Homo sapiens: one gene and its partner. The protein of the gene in region 1 purifies or fractionates together with the protein of each later gene. This does not show direct contact. Each region holds a gene or a part of one and is shown on either strand. Other genes may lie near its edges.

Evidence for each region.
Region 2: the proteins of PAQR5 (region 1) and PHYHIP purify together in Homo sapiens (affinity purification with mass spectrometry; 3 studies listed by BioGRID and IntAct, with this or other methods). This does not show direct contact.

What each region holds. Positions count from the first base shown.
Region 1 is NC_000015.10:69,378,895-69,385,918, reverse strand, and holds part of PAQR5 (membrane progestin receptor gamma), read right to left. Parts: intron 6,464-7,024; exon of another isoform or gene 6,320-6,463; coding exon of another isoform or gene 6,311-6,319; intron 6,037-6,310; coding exon 5,909-6,036; intron 1,243-5,908; coding exon 1,037-1,242; intron 1-1,036. UniProt on the Homo sapiens protein: Plasma membrane progesterone (P4) receptor coupled to G proteins. Seems to act through a G(i) mediated pathway. May be involved in oocyte maturation.
Region 2 is NC_000008.11:22,229,098-22,236,197, forward strand, and holds the start of PHYHIP (phytanoyl-CoA hydroxylase-interacting protein), read right to left. Parts: upstream 3,003-7,100; 5' UTR 2,699-3,002; intron 1-2,698. UniProt on the Homo sapiens protein: Its interaction with PHYH suggests a role in the development of the central system.

The DNA.
Region 1 (7,024 bases):
TATGTGAGTGTATTGTGTGTGTGTCAATGTGTGAGTACATGTGGCATGTGGTGTGTGTGTGTGCATGTAAGTGTATTGTGTATATGTGGTGAGTGTGTGTATGTGCATGTGTGAGTGCATTGTATGTGTGTGTGTCAGTGTGTGTCAGTGCATGAGTGTGTGTTTGTGTGAGTGTGAACGTGTGTATATGAAGAAAGAGGATGGAGGTAGGCTCCTCATGGACAACCTCTTGGGCAAGGAAGACAATAATTGGTTTTCTCACCTAGAATGGGACCTGGAGGAAGAATCTAGAACTCATATCCTTAGGGATAGATGCATGCCCACAAGGGGAGGAGAGAAGAGGCCAGAGGAGGGAGCATCATAGTCAAAGAAAAAGACAAGGAAGAGGGGGCGGTCAGCACCGAATTTCACCAGCTTAGGTTGCTGATCTATTCCCGCACACTCTGAGCATCTCTCTGATTGTGCTAAGCCTCTGGATATACGAGGCTCATGACCTCACCCTCCTCTTCTTGCCTGGCATGACAGAGACCAGCACTGATGTACTGGAGTCAGTTCATTCTGGCCTGTGAGAGAGCTGAGTGCTGAACACAGCCATCATTAAAAATTAAATCACAGAAACTTGCAATTAAATAAATCATATTAACAAAAGTACTGAGTACTCAATGACTACATCTACTGTATCTGCATGGTGGAATTTCTGTAATAGTGTGCTACGCATATCTCTTCCCACCCTTGTGTTCTGTGATGTCATGTTAGTAGGTTGAAGCTGGACATGATGGGAAGATTTACACCACAGAAACTGGCAACACTGCAGATCGGGGCTGTTGTCCCCACAGAGCCAGTGGCTAAATATTTAGCAGCATGCTTATGGACAGTTTCTTATAAAACACCCATTGGGAACCTGGACAGGGGCACTGGCATAATCCCTGGATTCTTCTGCAAACTCATCAAAGCCTTCTGGTGACCCTAGCTCACAGGAGAAGGGGCAAACAGCCCGGTTGCAGGGGAAGGAAAGCAAGAACAAGGCCTCACATACCCAGGCTGAAGAGGTTGACGGCACCATAGTCCAGGAAGTAGCAAATGTGCCGGGCATTCTTGGACATAGAGCTGAAGGTGTGCGCACAGCTGGACACAAGTGGGTACACGCAGCTGGTGCACATGTACACAAGCATGGGCCAGGAGTAGCTGTCATTCTTGATGTCTGTCATATACAGTGCAGTCACAAACCTCCATGCAAAGAACCTGGAACACAGAGGGCTCACTCACCCTCCACCATGAACACAGAGGGCCCGCTCACCCTCCACCATGAACACAGAGGACCCGCTCACCTTCCACCATGAACACGGAGGGCCCGCTCACCCTCCATGATGAACACGGAGGGCCCACTCACCCTCCACCATGAACACGGAGGGCCCACTCACCCTCCACCATGAACACGGAGGGCCCACTCACCCTCCACCATGAACACGGAGGGCCCGCTCACCCTCCACCATGAACACGGAGGGCCCGCTCACCCTCCACCATGAACACGGAGGACCCGCTCACCCTCCACCATGAACACGGAGGGCCCACTCACCCTCCGCGATGAACACGGAGGGCCCACTCACCCACGGAGGGCCCACTCACCCTCCACCACGAACACAGAGGCCCACTCACCCTCCACCACGAACACAGAGGCCCACACACCCTCCACCATGAACACGGAGGGCCCCCGCTCACCCTCCACCGTGAAAACAGAGGCCCCGCTCACCCTCCACCATGAGCACAGAGGCCCACTCACCCTCCACCATGAGCACAGAGGCCCACTCACCCTCCACCATGAGCACAGAGGCCCCGTTTACCCTCCACCATGAGCACAGAGGCCCACTCACCCTCCACCATGAGCACAGAGGCCCACTCACCCTCCACCATGAATACAGAGGGCCCGCTCACCCTCCACGATGAACACAGAGGGCCACTCACCCTCCACCATGAACACAAAGGCCCACTCACCCTCCACCATGAACACAAAGGCCCACTCACCCTCCACCATGAACACAAAGGCCCACTCACCCTCCACCATGAACACAAAGGCCCACTCACCCTCCACCATGAACACAAAGGCCCACTCACCCTCCACCATGAACACAAAGGCCCACTCACCCTCCACCATGAGCACAGAGGCCCACTCACCCTCCACCATGAGCACAGAGGCCCACTCACCCTCCACCATGAGCACAGAGGCCCACTCACCCTCCACCATGAATACAGAGGGCCCGCTCACCCTCCACGATGAACACAGAGGGCCACTCACCCTCCACCATGAACACAAAGGCCCACTCACCCTCCACCATGAGCACAGAGGCCCACTAACCCTCCACCATGAATACAGAGGGCCCGCTCACCCTCCACGATGAACACAGAGGGCCAGTCACCCTCCACCATGAACACAAAGGCCCACTCACCCTCCACCATGAGCACAGAGGGCCCGCTCACCCTCCACCATGAGCACGGAGGGCCCACTCACCCTCCACGATGAACACAGAGGGCCAGTCACCCTCCACCATGTACACAAAGGCCCACTCACCCTCCACCATGAGCACGGAGGGCCCGCTCACCCTCCACCATGAGCACGGAGGGCCCGCTCACCCTCCACCATGAGCACGCAGGGCCGCTCACCCTCCATGATGAACATGGAGGACCTGCTCACCCTCCATGATGGAAGCCCCTCTTAGATCCTCGCCTATCTACTGTCTCCATTCCCCCGCGGTGACTAATTCCTTCGTGTTCTCACTTTGGGGAAATACCATGTGCTAGGAAGGTGGGGGGTCCTTTTTTAATTGGGAGGCAGTACGTTGGGAATGGGCAGGTGAAGTAAGAAGAGAGGCTTTATGTATATCTAGTCCAATCCCCTAGTGATTCTCCAGCCTCAGCTTGCATGCTTCCAGGGATGGGGGGCTCATTACCTCCCAAAGCAGCTCCAAGGGCTGGAAAGTTCTCCTTCATTGGCTCAAATCTGTCCTCCTGGAATCTATCTCCATTTGATTGGCCTTAGTTCCCTCCACCAGGATCATAGAAAACAAGCTTAACATATGCATATATATATATATATATATATATATATATATATATATATATGGTCATATATATATATATATATATGGTCACATATATATACACATATATATACACACATATATATATACACATATACATACATATATACATACATACATATATATATATATATATATATATATATATATATATATATATATATGCTTTTTTTTTTTTTTGAGACAGAGTCTTGCTCTGTCACCAGGCTGGAGTGCAGTGGCACGATCTCGGCTCTCTGCAACCTCTGCCTCCTGGGTTCAAGTGATTCTCCTGTCTCAGCCTCCCAAGTAGCTGGGACTACAGGCACCCTCCACCACGCCTGGCTAACTTTTGTATTTTTAGTAGAGACAGCGTTTCACCATGTTGGCCAGGATGGTCTCGATCTCCTGACCTTGTGGTCTGCCTGCCTCAGCCTCCCAGAGTACTGGGATTATAGGCATAAGCCACTGCGCCCGGCCGCCTGTCAAATATTTCAAGGCAGTCTTTCTAACCCCCTCCCACCTCCTTGAACTTCACATTAAATACTCCCGGTTCCTTCAGCCATTCCTCGCAGGATCTAAATGTGGCGTTACCACCATCCCCGTGGTTTGTCCTTCCTCCATGTAGTTTGTCTATGTCCCTCTTGTAGGAAGGCTCCTCAAATAGAAGCAATGCCCCAGGTGGAGCCTTGCAAGCCGAGGCCAAGAGAACTATTTTCTCCCTCCTCCTCCACACTGTTCCTCCACTAAGAGTACAATCACTTTTCGGAATAGCTAGTCCCACAGCTGACTCTTAGCAGAGCCTAGATCTCTATGCAGAGACACTTCAAAATTCTTCACCAGGTCTGCCTGGCCTACAATCCACGCATGAGGTCCCGCCTGCAGAGCACCTCGCTTCCACAAATCACTCCTAGAGAGCTGGCTCCCTTTCTCACTAACTCCTCCAAGGGAGGAGACTCTACAAAGCTTTTCATATGCAGGAGCTGAAGGAACATTGCTAAATCCTTCCAGCTACACTTGTGGACTTTTTAATTTTGTCCCAGCGGGAAGTAAAGCTTAAGCTATTTGCTGTTTCTCAAAATGTATCCTTCAGTTATTTCAATTTTTCAGTGGTCCCATTTCCTTAGGGCATCTTGATCCAGACCTCCCCAAGTCCTTCCTGCTACTCTCTGTTGCTCAGTCAGGATCATCTCTGAGAGCCTGGCACCGTGTAGAAGTGCATAGGCAGTGCTGGAGGTGATGGGGGTGCGGCTCACCCAGCTTGGCTCAGCTGTAACATAGCAAAAAATCACCCTACAGGGATCCATGCATGGAGTGCAAGACCCACAAGCAGGGATGGACAGGCTGGTACCCTTTTAGCAGCTCAAATCTCAAAACAGCCTAAATCAACCATGATTCATCCAGAAAATGGAACACCAAGCAGATGTTCCAAAGTCCAGGAGACATGCAGATTGCAGATGCTGACAGAGTGAGATCTCCAAGGGAGGGAAGTAAGAGGAAGGCAGCAGGGAAAGAGGCAGATGCTGTGGATGCTCACAGCACAGATGCTCCTGGGTCCCCCAGAAAAGCTCCAGGAGGACGCATAGGAAGCAGGTCCCCCTGGCCACTCCAGGGAGGAGAACTGGGGCCAGTGGCAGAGCCTGACTCTATTCCCTTCTGAAGGGTTATAATTTGTAAGCATGTATACTTTTAAAAATGACAAATGGCCCCTGGAGCAGGGCTGTGCTGCCACCCCTGCCCAGTCCGCAGGCCCAGGGCTGCCACACTCCTTTACAGATCACCCTAGTCCACACCAGACTGAGCTCTCTCCCCTCTCCACTGAGCTGGCTGCTGGAACCAAACAGCCTGCCCCTGCATTTTGGCCCCGGGTCTGTCATCTGACTTCTACTCAGGCTGGCTGCCCCTGTGCGGGGAGCCTGGGCCCATCTCCACTCATGGCACACTCCTCATCTCTTCTCAACATGACTGGAGGGAGTCCAGTGACCAGCCTGTGCCACGGCGCCCCTGCATGACGTAAGGACGCCACCCCGTCTCTCGGCTGTGTCTACATCGACCAGTGGTGGTCTGAGTGGGACAGTGGCTTGAATGGCCTCTGAGTTCTTCCAGCTCAGATCCACTGTGATTTGGTGCTTTGACCCTGTCTCCATCCTCCATTCCTTAAGCAAAGGTGTGCAGTGTGTGACATTGGCCTTCATCCCCCACCTTTCTCAGCAAGGCCCCTCTTCGCTTCCCTGGCCACTTCCATTTCTGCATACAGGCTTCCCAGAGCTTTGCTCTTAGCTGGCTCCATCTACAGGCTGCCTGACCAAGTGCCTCCCAGTTGTCGTGGTTCCCAGAATGATTACGGAACACCCACAACTCTGTGGCAGATGCCTCTACCAATGTTTTCTCCCCAAACCCTCACAGCAACCCTTGGGGAGGTGCGGACCATCACTCCTGCTTTGCAGGTAGGAAAATGAGAGGCTCAGAGAGGTTGACTTGCTCAAACTAGTGACATTTTAACCAGGGCTCCTGGAAGACCTGGAAAGTCTCCAAGACCGGAGATGAAGGTAAATGCTATCATATCAGGCACCGGAGCAGGGAGCAGGAAGGACTGAGGCACTTTTGGGATTTCCCCTCAAATCTTACCCCAGTCCATGCCTTAAAGGTCATCCCAGTGGCACACCCAATGTCTCTTCCCTCTGTCACACACTCCCTTCACCCGCGTGTACCCACGGGGGATCCCCAAACCCCAGCACAGAATCTCAGCCCTCTCAACACTAGCCATGTTTTAAGACACCCTGGTCTCCAGGGCTCCTGAAGGAGACAGGCCGGTCGAGGGGGCCAGAAGGTACCAGAAGGGCAGCAAGTGAGTCCAAATGTTGAGAGTCTCATTGGTCATTTGGAAAAGGCTGAGGATGCAGGCAGTGGCAGAACTCTGTGGATGGCGGTAGCCGAACAGGATGCCTTGCTCATGGAACACCTGCAGAGGCAAAGGAAAAGGACACTGAGGTGAGACCAGAGGGTGGCACGAAGGTCTCTGGAGAAACATCTTCCAGGCCGTGCTCTGTGTGCCTGGAACGCTTGACCCCAAGTCCTTAACCTGTTAAGCTGTTCCCCTCACTCTCTCCTTCCCTCGCAGTAGCTTCTAAAATCCCTTGTCCTCCAAGAAGCCTCCAGCTAGCTGGGGGAGGGAATTCAAGGGCCAGGCTCCCTTTGGGAATCCAGCCTGTCTTTGCATTCCCCGGCGTACTTACTCTTGGCATGAATCTTGCCTAAGAATCCGTTTTCTCACCCCTCTGCCTGGGGCCTACAGCCCAGTTTTTGGACGCCTTTTTGGTGAGCTGACACAGATGCTGTCTGTCTGAGCTGGCAAGCCCTGCATGTCAGGGGCTGGTGGGAAGAACTCTGCAGAAGATGCCCCCGGTGCCAGGATATATTCACCAAGGTGCTTCATAAAGGGCTTTTGATGATGAGGACCACGATGCTGATGCCTGGGCTGCAGGAAGAGGAGGTGGCTGCCCACAGCACGGCTGCTCAAGTCACCCCCACCCCCATGCAGCCCATTTGGCAAGTCCCCCCCAAAAAACACCCACTGAGAAACCCGGACTGGTCAGGTGAAATATGGGGTATCAACCTGCCTGGAGTATTGTATTACATCCACTAAAAGTGGTAAGTGAGAAGATAATGAGGCCAGAGGCACAACAGCCCAGGATACAATAATAAGTGAAGAAATGTGGAATTTAAACTATATTCCTGCCATGGTTAGAAGAGCTTGGGAAAATGAAGTTTACACCATGGGGCAGAGGCTGGGAGGAACATAGAAAAGTGAAGTGTTTAATTTGTTGAGGTAGCAGGATTGCAGGAGACCTGTTTTCCCCTTCTGTGTTGATTTAGACCAAGGGTTCTCAATTTTGACACTATTGACACTTTGGGCCAGATCATTGTTTGTTGTGGGGGCCAACCTGTGA
Region 2 (7,100 bases), on another chromosome or scaffold:
CATGTGCTCATAATTTCACAGACGTCTCATGCAACCTTGGAAGTAGGCACACACTATCATTATCTCCATTTTACAGATGAGGCGACTGAGGTTGGGGAGGTACTAACATGCCCAAGGCCACGCAGAGAGCAAATGATTTGAACTCCGGCACCCAAGCTCTTGATCACTAAGCTAAGATAGTGTCCCCTCATGTGTGGGGGTGGAGGGGCACATGTGTGGCGTGTGTGCATGCATGGGTGCCCATGGTGTTTCCACCTGGCATTTTTCCTCCTTCCATCGTTTCCTTTCAAGCAACTGCATTTTCTCTCCCCTCCCTGTCTTACTCCTTTGGTTCTCCCCTTATGTCTGCTGCTCGTCCAGGTATGAGAGGACCTCATCACGGTCACTCTCATGTGTGCTTTAGCTGGGAAGAGCTGACTCTGGCCATGACTCTGGCCTGGCTGGCCTAGCTCCGGGATGGGGAAGAGCAAAGGGAAGGGGAGTGACAGCGTCTGGGAGGGGACAGCAGACGTGGGTGGGGCATTCTCCAGGGGCATTTGGTCTCCTGCTTTCCAATCCCTTCCTCCAGCCCAGTTCCTGGCACCCCTCATTTTTCTAAATGTCACCTCCTTCTCTTCTTTCTCCCCTCTTTTTCTCCTCCCCTTGCCCAGGAGCTAGTGGTGAGGGCATCTTGTGCCTGCAAAAGCAGGTACTTTTATTTATAGCTTCCAGAGGATCCAGCCCACACCTTCCTGTCAATTAAGCTTGCTCCAGAGCCTGGCACCTCTGTATTAACCTGTGAGTTGCCTGGATGGCAAGTACAGGGTGAAGGCTAAAGGTGATGGCCCTTACCTGCTCCAGGTGTCACTCAAGTCCTGTTTCATCTTAGCCTCCCACCCCACAGCCAAATGCCGGTGGCTTTGTGCATGGGGAATCCTATGGTAAATAAGCATGGCGGTGCTACCAGGCCCACCCCAAAATCAGGCAGATGGGATTGAGTGTCTGGAAACAACCCTACCATAATAAACCAGTTTGTAATTCATGGGGACAGGTGTGGAGCAGTGGGGAGTTACCATCTCTTGGGAACCTGGTGAGAAGCTCCCAGGGAGACACACATGTGCCCCTCACACACACACACGCACACACACACACGAACACAGACACACTCCTACCCAAGAGGCCCTGAGCGGCACCCACCCACACGCTCGGAGGCAGCCCACACTCGTCCCATGAGTAGGCACCTATTCCTGCCTCTCCTTGGAGTCCTCCTAGAAATAGGGGCAGCTGTGTTTGGCGGTAGGGGTCTCCAGGACCTGGGTGTCTGCTTGTCCCTCCCTCCCTACGGTTCTGGGAAAGCTGAGATGACATCCCCCCGCTAGCTTGGGAGGGTGGCAGTGAGTGAGCTGGGGTGGACAGAGGGGTGGGTGTGAACCCAAGTTCTCTACACCCAGAAGACTGGGGAAGGGCAGGGTGTGAGGGACAGGTTGAGGCAACACCCGAGAAACACCCACACTCCTGTGTGGATCCACCCCAAGACAGGCATGTACACACCCACACACAGGCAGGCACGCACGCGCATACACACATGCGCCAAGAGTGCCCACCCACCCGCGTCCCACACCTCCGCAGATGTCCTCACTCCCACACACCCATCTCCACATTCAGGTGCCTGCTGCCACCTTCCACATTCTAAGAATGCCCCACAGTTTTCCCTCTTCAATCTGTCACCTCCATGCACACCCAGACATGTTCATGTCCACAGGCTCACGCACACACACGTCCACGCACACCGCCTCACAAGCCATATGTGGGGAAAAGAGGATGCCACAGGCACCAACATGCATGTGTGCCACCTCCACAAGAAGGCACGCAACCCACACGCCTGCCGGCACACACATGTGTGTTCATACACACAGCAGCCCCCGCCCGAAGTCTGGTATTCTCTCTCGAATCATCTCCAGGCTCAAAGACAGACTTTGAAAATGTGTTTGCCTCTGGCCACACTCTGCCAGCCCTGAGCCTTCATGCCAACAGGTTTGTGCACCTACGTGGCTCTGCCCACAGACAATGGTTTCTGCCCCTTCTTCTCTTTACCCACTCCATCCTGCTCTGGGTCTCACCTCCCCATATAGAAAGCCCCTGTCTGCATACACTCCCACACACATGAAAAGGGACATGGTTACCCCTAAATATACTGCCTCATAGTGTCCCCACCCACGCACACCCACAGGCTACTCAAATAAGTCCCCCACACACATGTACCTCACGTGTGCCAGAAAGATATGTTTCTAGACATGCCTCACACCATTCAAAACCCACACATGAGCATGACTGCGGACAGACGGACCTATCTGCGCCAGCAAGCCTCCAGCCAACTCGCGAGCGCGCACACACACACGCCGCGCACACCGGTGCCCCTTCCCCATGCCCATTCAAACAGCCACCCTGCCACAGGGAATGCTTCCCCCACCCTGCTGTCCCTGTTGGCATCGCTGACTGCAGCAGAACGGTCACGGGGTGACTAACTGTGGTGCCCCAGAGACTGGATTCAGCCATTAACCACTTTGCCAAAGGCCTGGCCGGGGGGGGGGAGAGGGGACAAGGTCGTCAGGCCTGGCAGTCCAGGTGGGCACCCTGGGTGGTGGCAGGACCCTAGAGCCCCCAGATCCCGGCTACTCAGGATCAACAGCAGCAGGTTCCAGGGAGGAAGGGTACTCACCTGGCTCCACTGGGCTCTGCAGAGGAAAAGCTCGCAGGGAGGACAGGGAGAGACCTCTGCGTGGATGAGCTCCCCGGCAGGGGACAGCAGCCGGACGCCTGGGTCACGGGCAGTGGCGTGCGCTTGCTCCTCTCCCGGCTGCCAAGGAGGCTGCTTCCATGCCCCGCAGCCAGCTCCTGTCTGGCTGTGCAGCGCGTCGCTGCTGCCCCTGGTGAGACGATGTTCCCAGCTGAGCAGCGCAAGAAGAGAGGCAAGAGCGAAATCAAAGCAGCGTGGAGGAGAGAGAGGCAGAGAAGGGAGAAAGAACGAGAGAGCCAGACCGAATCTGCCTCCACCAATGGGATCAGCGGCTGCGCAGCGTCAGGTGATAATAAGCAGGCTTGGTCCCTGCTCGCCGGGCTGGTGGGAGGGGGAAAGGGCAGAGGGTCTCCCAGGGAGCTACACAGATGTCCTCAGGGACAGCAACACACGCCGCCTTTCCCCCATTCTTCCAGGACAAGCTGCCCTCAGAAGTCCCTCCAACACACCCCCTACTTGGAAATCTCTGACTTGAATGCAGCCCCCAAACTTTAGGATGCTGGGAGAGGGGTGGAGCTTAGCCAAGGGCTTGGGCCCCAAAGCAAAGACTCTGATTGGGGGAAGGGGAGGGAGGCTGTAGAGGGGAAAGGTCCAGATGGGGGGTGTGAAGCTGGGGTGGCTGTCTTCAGTCCGGAGCCTCTCCTTGGGGCCTTTTGGTGAACTGTGGTTCCATTTTCTTACCAACTCTAGAGAGAGATGGCAGACCTGCAGCTCAGGGATCCCTGTGGGTCTGGCAAGAACCCTCTGGCAGCTTGGGGGTCCACAGGAAAAGGGGCTGGGAGAGAGGCTGTGGCACAGTGCAGGGTGCACAGGGGTAAGAAAATGGGGGTGGGAGAACACACCAAGCTCTGAGTGTCCTCAGCCCACCCCACTCTCTGAGCACAAAGGAAGCCGGCCCTGGGCATCTTGGGGAGAGAATGTAATTCTGCTCTCACGGCAGCAGGAGGCTGTTCTGCCATCAAGAAGCAGACTCCGTGGAGGCCATCGGGAAGAACATCCAAGGAAATGTGAGTCCAGCAGCAAGCAGGGACAGAGGGTTGCGCAGTGGTGAAAAGCACAGGCTCACAGTCAGATGGATGTGCTGAGAATCCCTGCTCTACTGCTACCCAGCTGGGGGACCTTGGACAAGCCACTCAACCTCTCTTCATCTGTCAAGTGGGATCACACAGGTTTATTGTCATCATGGAATGAAATAATTAGGTAAATCGCCCAGCCCTGGGCCTGGCACATCAGAAGTGCCAGTCACATGTCAGAACTGTTCTTGTTCCCATCATATCGACAGCATCTTCCTGCAAGGAGCCCACAGTCCTCTACGGGAGAGAAGATGGCCATTTAGAGGATGCAATTAGAGAATGAGGAGCACACAACTAAATCGTAGGGCACAGATACTCATTCAGAGAAAGAACAATGGGCGGCTCCAGGGCACGTGCAGGGTGCAGGCCAGAGGAGGCTGTGGAAGCAGGAGTGCGGCTGGGGTGGGGAGGATTGGCACGGGGGCAGCTGACACCAGGCAGGCCCAGGGTGAGGTCTTGGTGAGCAGGAGAAGGTGTGAGCTGAGCCTAAGAAACACTCACCAAGAGGGAGTTGAGGCGGCAGGCCTCAGTGCAAAAGTCAGAGGAGGTAACAGCAGCAGAAAGTGAGAGTTCACAGAATGCAAAGACAAGCAGAAGCCAACCCTGCCTGAAACGGCTGTGAGAACCTCAGTGAGCCTGGCCAGGTCCTGAACTGCCGAATGTGGGGTGGTGCGTGGCACTGAGGCAGGACTAAGCACCCCCTTGGCCAAGCATGACTACGTCCTGCTCCGACATACCCACGCCGAGCTGGTGAGCTCAGAAGAGATGCAAAACGTAACCTCCTGGTGATGGCCAGCACATGACATCTGGACTACAATTCTGTCCCAGGCCGGGCGCAGTGGCTCACAAGAATCCGAACACTTTGGGAGACTGAGGCAGGCAGATCACCTGAGATCAGGAGTTCGAGACCAGCCTAGCTAACATGGCGAAACCCCATCTCTACTAAAAATATAAAAATTAGCTGGGTGTGGTGGTGGGCGCCTGTAATCCCAGCTACTTGGGAGGCTGAGGCACAAGAATCGCTTGAACCCGGGAGGTGGAGGTTGCAGTGAGCCAAGATTGCACCACTGCACTCCAGCCTGAGTGACAGAGTGAGATTGTGCCTCGAAAAATAAATAAATAAATAAATAATAAAATCCTGTCCCTAGGACCACACAGAGGGGCAGTGCAAGGAAAAAGGCAGGTTCTCTGTGACTTGGTTTCCCCTTCTGCCAAAGGAAAACTAGCCCCAGCACCATCCCTGCCTCCCACCTTCTCGGGATGTCATGAGGAGACTGCACGAGGTCCTGTGGCCCAAGCATGAGCAATAGCCATCTGAGCGCCCCTTTGTGGAGCTGCGTGCCGGCGACAGGTGAAGGCACAGCCCTTTAGGAGCTTCTGCCTCTTCTTGCCTCAGAGGACTTCTCTACAGATCACGAGAGGAAACACGTGGTAAGAGCAAACCATAGTGTGCCAAGTATAACTCACTCCCTATGAAACCAAACAACCGCCAAGATGCACTTCTGCTGCATTTTTATTTTTCATAACTTTTTATGACACAAGTAGCACATGATCATTGTAGAGAGACGAGCACATTTCATTTTAAAATTTAAGAGGGAATTTAAATCTCTCATTTTCCCACCATGCAGAAATACACATTAAATACATATAAAGAATTTTTTTAATTAATTTTTTTCGAGACAGGGTCTTGCTCTGTCACCCCGGCTGGAGTGCAGTGGCGCAAACTTGGCTCACTGCAACCTCTGCCTCCCTGGCTTAAGTAATCCTCCCACCTCAGTCCCCTGAATAGCTGAGAGTATAGGCGCACACCACCACACCTGGCTATTTTTTTTATTTTTTGTAGAGATGGGGTCTCACTGTGTTGCCCAGGCTGGTCCCAAACTCCTAAATGCAAGCAATCCACCCGCCTTGGCCTTCCAAAGTAGTTGGGATTACACAGGTGCGAGCCACCACACCCAGCCAATACTTGTATAGAATTTATTAACAAAAATAGAATGAAAGAATGCTGTTTTGTAACCTGCTTTTTTCACTTACCAATATCTTTTCTGTTCATCATATAACCTTTTTTTTTTTTTTTTTTTTTTTTTGAGACAGAGTCTCGCTCTGTTGTTCTGTCTCCCAGAACCTGGGAGGTGGAGGTTGCAGTGAGCCAAGATCACGCCACTGTACTCCAGCCTGGGTGACAGGGTGAGACTCCATCTCAACAACAAATTTTTTTTTTTTTTTTTTTTTTTTTTTTGTAGAGACAGGCTCTCACTATGTTGGTCAGGCTGATCTCCAACTCCTGGTCTCCAGTGATCCTCCTGCCTCGGCCTCTCAAAGTGCTAGGATTACAGGTGTGAGCCACCATGCCCAGCTGATCAACTCCATTTTAAAAAGGTGGAGGGTGGGAAAGAGGACTCAGGCCATAAGTAGTAAAACTAGTTAGTATTCAAATTCAGGTCTGTCTGAGTACCAAGGCCAGATTCCTCGTGGTAGAAAGATGCATAGCAAATATAGAGTCTGATGTAATAGAGAATGAGACTATAAGCAAAACATATTTACAGTCTTAATATTGCTTATGCACTTTATAGATTTAAAATGTTTATGTGTATTTCCCTATGGCTGAACTCAGTGTGGGGATCCGGTGAGCCAATGAATGCACATACATCAGGTAGTCCGTGGAAACCACTTTTGTCCTTTACATGTGTTTACAATGACAAGAGTGGGCCATGAGTATTTATAAGAACTACATGGATTTCTCAGTGCTTATTTCCTTTTCTTTTCGATATTATGTTTAGACAACCTATAACCTTCACTGGTCATCTATTTTAATGAAGAGCATTAACCTAATTCTAAAAACATTTACTAAACTAAAGAAAAAGTATTTTATGGCTGGGTGCAGTGGCTCATACCTGTAATCTCAGCTCTTTAGGAGTCTGAAGTGGGCAGATCACTTGAACCCAGGAGTTCGAGACCAGTCTGGGCAACATGGTGAAACCCCGTCTTCACAAAGAGTACAAAAATTAGCTGGGCATGGTGGCATGGGCCTATAGTCCCAACTACTCTGGAGGCTGAGGCAGCAGGATTGCTTGAGCCTAGGATTTGGAGGCTGCAGTGAGGCATGATCGCTTCACTGCACTCCAGTCTGGGTGACAAAGCGAGAACCTGTCTCAAAGATATATATATTTTAGATTTTGTAGAAAACTTAAATATTTAACCACTTTAAGACATGGGAAAATGCTGAATTATATTAAAGGACTCAGACAAGC